Regions from separate parts of the Homo sapiens genome. Here region 2 is linked to region 1. The links come from fine-mapping of genetic effects on plasma protein levels. Region 1 holds a variant in brackets. A gene starts in the other region. All regions are shown on their reverse strands.

Evidence for each region. PIP is the chance, under the fine-mapping model, that this variant and not a neighbour inherited with it causes the effect. Protein levels are from antibody-based Olink assays in UK Biobank. Linkage for the fine-mapping came from a reference panel and not from the study's own genotypes, which makes the PIPs less certain.
Region 2: it holds the start of CRYBB2, and the variant in region 1 is fine-mapped to the plasma level of the CRYBB2 protein (UK Biobank, PIP above 0.99).

What each region holds. Positions count from the first base shown.
Region 1 is chr15:74,041,287-74,046,652 of GRCh38, reverse strand. PML (PML nuclear body scaffold) reads right to left here. Exons shown (of 9, transcript NM_033238.3): 8 at 3,514-3,664; 9 at 1-2,432. The coding sequence ends at 1,645. Among named protein-coding and RNA genes, the nearest start is that of GOLGA6A, 39 kb to the left of the region's middle. RefSeq lists a silencer at 99-290 and an enhancer at 4,845-5,366. The variant A/G (reference allele first, on the strand shown) is at 2,361.
Region 2 is chr22:25,217,030-25,222,395 of GRCh38, reverse strand. CRYBB2 (crystallin beta B2) reads right to left here and starts at 2,757. Exons shown (of 6, transcript NM_000496.3): 1 at 2,730-2,757; 2 at 913-992. The coding sequence starts at 966.

The sequences.
Region 1 (5,366 bases):
TCCTCCTTCCATCTGCATCAATCTGTTTCCATCGGTGCTTCAGAACCAGCGCCTGTTTTAACAGTCTGGCATCAGAATCTTATTTTAAATGCATCAAAATTCACTGTGAGAGCCAGCACTCCGGTCGTGGGAACAAGACCCTACGGAATTCCTCAGTGGGTCTTCAGGGGCCCCATGGGATGGGGCTGCAGTATGGGTACACAGACTTCACCAGTGTGAAAGCTGAGGTCATCAGCCATGGAGGCTAGAGGCCTGGGCTGCTTGGGAAGCATCCCAGGAGCAGGGAGCTAATGAGTAGGGATGGGAAGGAGGGAGGAGGAGGAAGGGGCTGTCGTTCTGCTAATCAGAGCGGACAACCCTGACCTGCCTCTGTTCTGCTGTTGACCTCTGATGTGACCACAAGGTTGGGGACTAACAGTTTGGAATGGGAGCTAGAATTCAAGGATGAGAAGTCTTCCTGTCCACTGCCTCAGAGGCCTGCTTTCCATTCCTAAAAATGCAGGATGGCACAGCCAGATGGCCGCTCTGACCGTGGAGGCCAATCAGCCCATTTTACAGATGGGGACACTAGAGCTTAGGAAGGGACCTGTTCCTAGGCCACACTCACTGCACAGTCAGAGATAGGGACGGGACTTTCTCTGCTGTTCCACACTGCTTCCCCTTGGAGGAGCAGTCTATGAGAGCAGCGGTTCTCAAACTTGAGCATGCACCAGCATCACCGGGAGAACCTGTTAAAACACAGACTGCTGGGCCCCACCCTGAAGATTCTGATTCCAGAGGCCTGTGGTAGAGCCCACAGGTCTGCATTTCTAAGAAGCTCCCAGGGGATGCTGATGCCGCAGGTCCTGGACTACATGCTGAGTAGTGCTGGGCACTCCTTGGGACGGCTGAGGGTGAGGGCAGTGCAGGAAGAGCCAAGGGCCATGCTGTGAGGGGTCTGGTGGCCTGAGGACCAAAGAGCAAAGCTGTGGCCAAGCAGAGGTGTCTGTGCAGCCAGGAGGAAGGAAGCAAGCTTTGGAAGGTCAGGCTTTGGAAGCAGGGACATGCATGGAACATCAGTTTCTGTCTTTGCTGATGAGGCCCCTCTGGGATGAAAGGAGAAGGGAACAGAGTTGGCCTCTGGGCAGGTGGAGGGTGGGGGACCCTAACCTCATGAGGGGCAGTTTGGTTTGGAAGGCACTTTGAGTTGCCATGGGCTGCCAGGGCTGTAGCCAGCATCACCTCAGACTGTTCTGTGTGGGAGCTGTCAGCAGGTGTCCAGGGGCAGGGGCTGGGGTCAGGGCAGAGCTGTAAGGACACCCAAGGTAGTGGCAGGTGGGATGGATGGGGCAAGACCAGGGCCACCTAGAGAGCCCAGAGGTCATGCCTTCCTCACTCAGGACCTCCCTGGTTCTAGCTCCTGGAAGGAGGGGCTAATAGGAGTCTGGTGCACACCTAGGGTGATGGGTGCTCAGCTTTGGAACCTTCTCTGTAGGATGTTTAGAGAAGGGAAATTTGGTCCCAGAGAAAGGGAACTGATTCTGAACCAAATGACAACTGAGGGCTGGGTACCAGGACCTGGGAATGCTGTGATGGGTGGGGCCTGGCTCAGGGACCCCATCCCTCTCTGCCCACCAGAGACTCCAAGCTGGTCACCCCCTCCTCTCAGCTCTGCTGGGAGGCCCTCTCTGCCAAGCCACGGCCAGCAAGTGGGGTGGAGACTCCTTCTGCCCGTGCCAGCGCCGGACCCTCCAACAGGCCTTCAAAGTAGGTGCCCAGAGCCTGCAGGTTGAAAGCAGGCTGGGCAGGGGGCAACGTGGTGGTCTGCAGGCTTAGATAGCGGCTGTACTTCTTCAGGCCCCCCTGCCGGTCACGGCGGTGTGCACTCAGCAGCTCCATGAAGCTCACGTTGTGTAGGGCCAGGAGGCGGGCCTCAGCCCGGGGCAGCACAGCTGCCTGCACCAGGGGCTGCAGGGAGGCAAAGCACTGCAGGCTACTGAAGGGGTAGACATGCTGGGCCAGCTGGGGGCCCGGGGAGACCTCGAGGAGGCGGCACAGGTCACGCATGGCCAGCACGGCAGCCATGGCGCTGCGCTCGCTCATGTTTCTCGCCAGGTAGGTCTGGGCCAGGTTCTTGAGTTTGAAGCTGCTGGCCCCGGGCACACGCTCCCGGATGAGAGGCAGGGCAGCCAGGAAGCCCGAGATGGCCTCCTGGAATTCCCACAGCCTGTTAATGTCCTCCAGGGCCCGGAAGAAGTTTGGGAGGCCAGGCCCCCACAGCTTGTAGCAGGCCAAGATAGGGCGGCGCATGGAGCTCAGAAAGCTGAGGAAGTGCTGCAGCCCCACCTCCAGGGACACGGCCTTGGAGTAGATGCTGAAGA[A/G]GGCTTCAGGCTGGATGACCACGCGGAACTTGCTTTCCCGGTTCACCGCAGCCAGCTGGCTAATCTTCTGGGCTGGGCAGGAGAGAAGGGCAGGGTGAGGACCCAGGGTCACAGAGAGCTCTGGGGTGGGAGCAGGGGGTCCTCTAGGGCTGCTGACTCACCATCTAGAGACCTCACCTTGGGGTCTGCTGGCAGTAGCCACACATCAGCCCCCAAATGCAGCTCTGATCCTGGTTGTGGTGGGATAGCAGTCAGAAGGGGAGGCTCGGCTGCCCTCCAAACACTTTGTTCACCAGCTGGGGATCCAGCTCTCCCCTCCTCCACTACCGGCCCCAGAGTTGGCCAAACCCCATGGATACAGGTCCCTCCTGTCTTCTATCAGCCTCAGCCACCTATACTAGAGATCCCAGGCTGCTTGAACTTAGCTCTCCATCCCATGCTCCTTCCTCCAATCCCCTCAAGGACCCCAGCCCAGTCAGAGCCCTGGGACATAGAAAGCACTCCACTCAGAGCAAGGCCAAGAGCCTCCCACTGAGGTCTGCAAATGACTTTTCTGTACCATGAAAACACTTGCTGTTTCTGTCTGGCTGGGCTAGCCCCAATGTTGAGTCCATGCCACAGGGTAGGGCCTGGGGCTCTGGCTCAAGGAGGGGCATTTGCAGAGCCAGGGCAAGCACTGGAGGAAGTAGAGGGGCTTCCAGGATAAGGGGTCTGATCCCTCTGTGACCTTGGATCTGTGGGCAGCCCTGTGCAGCCACCTGTGGGATTGGCCCTCTACTCAGAAACGTGTAGCACAGCCAGAGGCCTTACTTGGATGACAGGGCTCACGGCAATGAGCTCACGCATTGTGTTTCTGTCTAGGAGTGTGTTCCCCAGGCTCTCTGTCTGAGAGAAGAACTGGTCAGAGGTGCACTTGTGGAGGCATCTGCCTCTCTCGCACACTCAGGCACTGGATAAGGCGGACATCTTTATTCAAGCCAGCAAATGACACGCCAGGAGCCCAGGTGAGCCGGAGTGCTCTGCCCAGCCTGGCTGCAGTTGTTGGCCAGAGCTCAGAGCTCTCCTGGGCCTGGCAGATGGCTCTGCCTGCACTTCTTTTTGGGACTCAGAGACTAAATTAGAAAGGGGTGGGGGTAGCCCCAGGAGAACCCACTTTCATTGTCAATCTTGAGGTCAAAGAAAACCAGAGGTCTGTCTTCTGCTTGGGGGTCAGCAAGGTTCTCGTCCAGGACCCTGAGGGTGCTGGGGCCTTCCAGCTGGAGGTCACTGGACTCACTGCTGCTGTCATCCAGCTCTCGGGAGGACTGCAACACAGAAAAACCAAGCGTCAGGGATTCAGAGGGCCAAGGCAAGCACCTGTGCAGAACACTAGCAAGCTGGTATAGCTGGGAGCATCTGCGTGCACATGAAGGAGGGTGTACCACTGGGAAAGGGGACGTGTGCACAAGAGAAGGTATGTGTGCATGAATGGGTGTGAACTGGGTGTGTCACATGTGAGGGTTACATGTATGAACCAGGGCATACACCCTCATGAGTAGGGGAGGAAGGGTGACACACACAGGTTGTGAACGTGCATGTGTGGGAATGAATCCAAGTGCTAAATCTGTGTGTGCATGCACAGTTAAGTGTGAGCTGTGAACCTGCGTTGACACAAGTGTATGAAAGTGTGAGAGAAAATGCCAGTGGGTGTGTGCATGAGTGTGCTGTGCTGCTTATGGAGGCTCAGGGAAGGAGCCATCTGCTATGGCAGGCAGGACCTGAGATGTCTGCTCCTAATTTCATCTTTCTGAGCAGACTCAGAAGAAACACCAAAACTTGGGACGGGAGAAAGAAGCCTCATCTTGAACCCCAGATGATTCTTTGGAAGGGGTCGGGAGCCTGCCTTTTCTTGTCCCCGAAGTCAGCCGAGGTGCCAGTGTCCTACACAAAGGCGAGGGGAAGGACTGCTTGGCCTCCTGAAGGCCACATCTAGGTGGACACCCAGGTCCTTGGCAGTGAGAGAGCAGTGGAGGCTCTTGGCATCTGCCCCAGCAGCTTAGAGAAACCTGAGTTTTGGGAGTCCTTCAGGTGAGGCGTTCTCTCCTGTCCCAAGGTCCTGGTGGGAACACTGTTCGAGAAGCCATGGGGTGGGGAGCCAGAGGATGAGGGAAGGGCTCCAGCTCTGAGATTTTCCCAAGGGACTGGGACTACAGAGGGAGGTGGAGCCTCTGATGGTAATACAGAGTTAATTGCTTATCATCTGCTCAGCTGCCAAGCCCAGATGTTTAGTCTTTGATGACCAACTTGGAACCTCCCATGAATGCCACCTGTGGACGTTAGCCAGAGACCAGCAAGGAAGAGACATGGACAGGATCACAGGGCCAATTGGGAGCATGGCTGGGACAGAGTCCAGGGCAGGCCTTGGGTTTTTCCTCTTTATGGACTGCCGCTGGCTTCTCAATGAAGTTGGTGTCACCTGGTGCTAAAGCCTCAGTTAATTCTGGCCTCTGGCTAATGTCCCTGGCCTAGGAGGCAGCACATTTCCCCAGACCCTTCCAATGCCCAAGTGAAACATCTGCTTCCAACCAAGCTTCAACTGAGAGAAAAAGCGTTTCCACCCACAAGTAACCTAAGATGTGGTGGGTTTTTGTAGGAGTGGCTGGATTTCACTGGATTTGCATTTCACAGCCCTGCTCCAGGCTCATCAGCTTTCTGCCAGTTATTGTCAGAAGCAGACACTCACTATGAATCCATCTAGAGCTGGCTTTGCCTCTTCATATCCAGGGATCTAGTCAGAGAGTCTGCCCAGCGCCTCGCATCTCCAGATCCTCATTCAGCCACGCTGTCAAAAGCTGATTTCACACGTCTTGCTCCGGGTGAGCCCACACTGCTGTCTCGCCTTTCCAACTCGGTTTCCTCCCTGTAAGGAGCCTTCTACAAGGCGTCTTCCTAGCTTGTAGCTGGGTGGCTGGAGACTCCACCTTCTCCCGCTTTGGGAGAATCCAGTTGTTTCCTCTCTCCAGGCTT
Region 2 (5,366 bases), not on the chromosome of region 1:
ACAACCACTGTGACTCTCAGGAGCCCCTTCCCCTAGTTTACAATTGTTTGTAGCACTTCTCACTACTGGAAATCATATATTCATTTATTTATTGTCTGTCCTTCTTCTGGAAAGTAAGCCCTAAAAGGGACAGATTGGGGTGAGCAGGTGAGGGGCTGTATCTGCTCAGGCTTCCCTGGCCCAGGAGGCACTGAGTCAGACAAAGGGGCCATTCCTGAAGGAACCTGTGCCCGGGGCTACCAAAGCAGGGAGGCACAGGAGGGCAGTCAGGTGGCCGTGCCTAGATAGAGGTTTGAGGGCAGACTGGGTGTGACAAGCCTCTGACGTTGGGATAAGATCCTGCCGCCCTTGGGTGGACAGGTGGATGAGAAATCAAAGGCGGCATTATTTGCTGGTGTTAGGTGGATGCGCACCCCAGGCCGGGTGTTAGGCTGAGCCTGGTTTCTTTGGCTCTCACAACTTCCCTGTGCAATAAATCTGACTCCTCCTTTTATAGAGATGGAACTGAGGCTCAGAGGGATCAAATAATTGGCCCGGATCACACAGCAGGTGCAGAGCCAGGACTCACACCCACCTTCCATCTACTAATCCCATCTCTGACTGAGAATGAGGGTCTGCTCCAGTTTCAGGGAGCCCTGTAGACAATAGGGTGTGGCAAAACAGGTAAGGGAGAGAGAAACTGAAGTCTCCAAAGCCAGAGGCTGGTACTGGGAATCCCAGCATGCCAGCTATGGGCTGGGGAGGGACTTTCAGTATCAGCTCCAACTGTGTGGGTAGAGGAGACTGAGTCCCAGAGAGGGGCAGGGGTCGAGAGGGGGTACCCATGAAGAAAGATGCCAAGCCCATTTTACAGAAGGGCAACTAAGTCTGGGGGAGGAGCATTGCATGCCCCCTCCTCTGAGAGGTACCCACCTTGGGGTTGAGGGACTGTGGCTTGCCCGCCTGGGTCTGGTGATCTGAGGCCATGGTGGACTGTCCTGTGCAGGAATGACCTGGAAGACATGGGAAGCAGCAGTGAGGACCTGGAGGGGCCACTGGCTTTTTCACTCTGTGGGGCCTTGAGACCACTCCCCTCTGGCCCCAAACATTCTCTTTTTCTCCTGGTTTCAGACTGTCCCAGAGCTGTGGGGTCCGTAAGCAGCTACTTCAACTTCTGTCCTTAGCTTCATTTATTTCTATCCAGGCCAGCTGCAGGAGGAGGGAAAAACGAGGTCTACTCAAAGAAAGAGAGCAGTAATAAACTAGAGCTTAAATGAGGTCCAAAGTGGGTTCCCAACACTCAACCCCAGACAATGGATACCACACAGAATATAGAATGGTCAATCCCAGAACTTCTGCCTTTATGCAGTAATTTCTTAAATAAAATTGTGTGGAACAAACAAAACCTATGCATTGGCTGTATTTGGTGGTGTGGTGGTGCCCAGTTTAGGAACTCACAAAGTTCCCTGTTCCCCTGCTCCTTCTCCCACCCTCTCCCTGGGACTCCTCTCCCCATCCTGGTACCTAGATTTCTCTTCTCTGCCACTGGTTTTACTCCCCCATTAGTGAAATCATCTGATACAGAACCCACATTACAAGAAAGAGAAGAAATGGGTGCGACGGTAGAAATCCAGGCACTGTGGCAGGCAGCAGGGTAGACCTGCCTTAGCTAGTGAGAACATCAGAAAAGCCTGGAAAATTGTCAGCCTCTTCCCCCTTCCTGCAGAAGGGGTGGTCAAACCAGGCTGTGTTTCCCCAGGGGTAAGAGAGGAAGCCTGGCCTCCCTCTTCAGAGATAACGCCAGCTTCCAGAAGCCCCTTCCACATGAAAGGCCAATACTGGATGTTTCCCAGGAGGAAGAAATGCAGTTAAGCACCTTGGCAGCCAAATCTACTGCTCTCCCGCAAGAAACCAGCCCTCTGGGCTTGTCAGAGTGCCTGAGGTCCTGCCATATCACTTCCCAGTCCTGAGTGTTCACAGACTGAAGAAGCTCAGTTGGTCCAGTTCAGGAGCAGTCTCTGCTGCCTGCCAGAATTGAGACTCTGGGCAGGTCTCATCCTCTCCCTATGCCTCAACTTCCTGTTCTATAAAATGGGGACAGTAATGATGTCTAATAATACCTGTGAACAGGTTGTGAGGATTCAATTATGTAATGTATAAAACCGGAAGCACTTGGCCGTGGTCCCAGAACACACTCAGCATGCAGCAAATGGCAGCAATTGTGGCATTATTAGAGTCATTTCTACCATGCTTTAGTGGCATTGAAATCACCTGTTGCTGGGACCTGTCACATACCTGTGGCTGCATCCTATCCCCTAGCACTCCCAGAGGCTAGGCACAGAGTGGGTGCCCCCTAATTGCAGATGTGGAGGAAAACTGACTCACCCACCTAGAAACAATGCTGAACTGTCACTGGTTTGATTCTTGCAAAACCCTCAGTTACATTCTCCTCCTCAGCGACTGGCGAAACAAGGATGCTGATAGTCTGTTTAATATTAATAATAAAGAACATTGCCCCAATGCCCACTGTGTGCCAGGCACTGTGCTGGATGATCCCCTAACTTCTCTTGAATCCTTACAATAAAGAAGGCTTTTTAACCCCCTTCCCAGTTACCAGAAAAGAAAACTGAGGCTAACAGCATTGAAGTCTCTGCCCAAAGTCACTTGTCAGAATCTGGGTGCTCCCATGCTTGCGGACAGGGGTGAGGATGAGAGAAAGAAGGGAAGACAAGCAAGAGAGGCAATCTTACCAGTGACACCAGCCCCTGCGAGTGCCGTGAAGCTCGGCCAGCGGGAGGTGGCATTTATACCTTCCCCAGAAGTGCCGGTGCCAAGATGAGTGACCGCTGTGCTCCTGCGAAAAGCAGGGTGAGAATGCTGGATTAAGCTCTCACCAAAGCTCGGGTCAGCAAATGCCCACAGACATTGTGTCTCTGCACAATAATGTCATTAGCTTTCAGATTCGGCCGCGCCAGGGCGGTCAGGCGGCTGGGCAAGGAGATGCCCGCTTTGCATGCATCAGCCGTCCGGCTGCCAGGGCCAGGGGTACGCTGGGTTCACTGGTACGGTCAGTCAGGCCGTGAGGCATGGCAGACAGAGGAACATCTCAGTGGGCCTGGGGAAGAACAAGTAAAGAAGGGTGGTTTGGCAGAGTCTGGGCTTCATTCATCTACCCATTTATTCATTCAACAAATATTTGTTGGGCATCCACTTGGTGACAATCTCTGTTCCAGGGGAGTGTCAGGAAGAGGACCTACGCCAGCCCAGGCCATTCAGAAAAGCTCCTGGGAGGTAGCGCATCCCTCAGGGATGGAGAAGAGGAAGCCTGGGAACAGGGTGGGGGGACAGTTCCAAGCAGAAAGGGTCCATATACAAGGAACCAGCATGGTGTATTTCAAGAAGACCTGAAAACAGGTTAACAAAGCTAAAGCATGACATGTGACAAATAGGGCCTGTGCCAGGTGGCCAAGGTGGGCAGGGCCTGATGTTGCAGGGCCAGGGAGGCCAATTATGGAGAGTGCATTTTATTCTCAAGGCCCCTGGCTGTTTCTCTTTCTTTTCTTTCTTTCTTTCTTTCTCTTTCTTTCTTTCTTTCTTTCTTTCTTTCTTTCTTTCTTTCTTTCTTTCTTTCTTTCTTCTCTCTCTCTCTCTCTCTCTCTCTCTCTCTCTCTCTCTCTCTCCCCTCTCTCTCTCTCTCTCTCTCTCTCTCCCCCTCTCTCTCTCTCTTTCTTTCTTTCTCTTTCTTTCTTTTGAGATGGAATCTCACTCTGTCACCCAGGCTGGAGTGCAGTGGTGTGATCTCGGCTCACTGCAACCTCTGCCTCCCAGGTTCAAGCGATTCTCCTGCCTCAGCCTCACCAGTAGCTGGGACTACAGGTGTGCGCCACCAGGTCCAGCTAAATTCTTTTTTTTGCTGTATCTTGTTAGAGACAGGGTTTTGACATGTTGCCCAGGGTGGTCTCAAACTCCTGAGCTCAGGCAATCCATCCACCTTGGCCTCCTAAAGTGCTGGGATTCCAGGCATGAGCCACTGCACCCGGCCTGTTTCTTAACCACTGTCCTAGAGTGAGTTGCTCTTAGATCCCTACCACTGGCCCCATCGCTGCCACATGGGTGCCCAGCCTTTACTCACATTTCTTTTCTATTTTTTTTTTTTTTGAGATGGAGTCTCGCTCTGTCGCCCAGGCTGGAGTGCAGTGGCACGATCTCAGCTCACTGCAAGCTCTGCCTCCCGTGTTCACACCATTCTCCTCCTTCAGCCTCCCTAGTAGCTGGGACTACAGGCGCCCGCCAACACGCCCGGCTAATTTTTTGTATTTTTAGTAGAGACGGTGTTTCACTGTGTTAGCCAGGATGGTCTCGATCTCCTGACCTCATTATCCGCCCGTCTCGGCCTCCCAAAGTGCTGGGATTACAGGCGTGAGCCACCGCGCCCGGCCTTTACTCATGTTTCTTTAGTGCACACACCTTCCTTGCAGCCCAGGCTGTGTCTTGATCCAATCTGAGGCTTGGAGACTGGGTCAAGTATACCTGCTTTCCCCTGTCTCTCATTTTCTTAATGCACATATGCATGCACACGCATGCACACACACTACACACACATGCCCCAGCCCCCTAGCTGGGCTTTTCCTTTTGCAGCACTCATCACTACCCAACATTCTGTTACTCATTTATTTTCTGTCTTTCCAATGAGAAGATAAGCACCACAAAAGCAAAGAAGTTGTCCCCCTGGTTTACCATGGTATCTCCAGAGCCCAGTGCCTGACGCATAGTAGGTACTTGTTTTAAAATCCCAGGGCTGGCCGGGCACAGCGGCTCACGCCTGTAATCCCAGCACTTTGGGAAGCCAAGCCAGGCGGATCACCTGAGGTTGGGAGCTCGAGACCTGCCTGAGCAACATGGAGAAACCCCGTCTCTACTAAAAATACAAAATTAGCCGGGCATGGTGGCACATGCCTGTAATCCCAGCTACTCGGGAGGCTGAGGCAGGAGAATCACTTGAACCCACGAGGCAGAGGATGCAGTGAGCCAAGATCATGGCATTGCACTCCAACCTAGGCAACAAGAGCAAAACTCTGTCTCAAAGAAAATAAATAAATAAATAACATAAAATAAATCCCAGGGCTGCTGTAATAAAGTGTCACAAACTAAGTGGCTTAAAAACAACAGAAATTGGGAATGTAAAATGGTGTTGCCACTACGGAAAACAGTGTGGCTGTCTCAAAAAAAAAAAAAAAATCCAACATAGAATTACCATATGAGCCAGCCATTCCACTTCTGTGCACGTGCCCCAAAGAATTGAAAGCAGGGAATTGAAGAGATATTTACACACCCATGTTCATAGCAGCATTATTCACAATAGCCGAAAGATGGAAACCACCCAAATG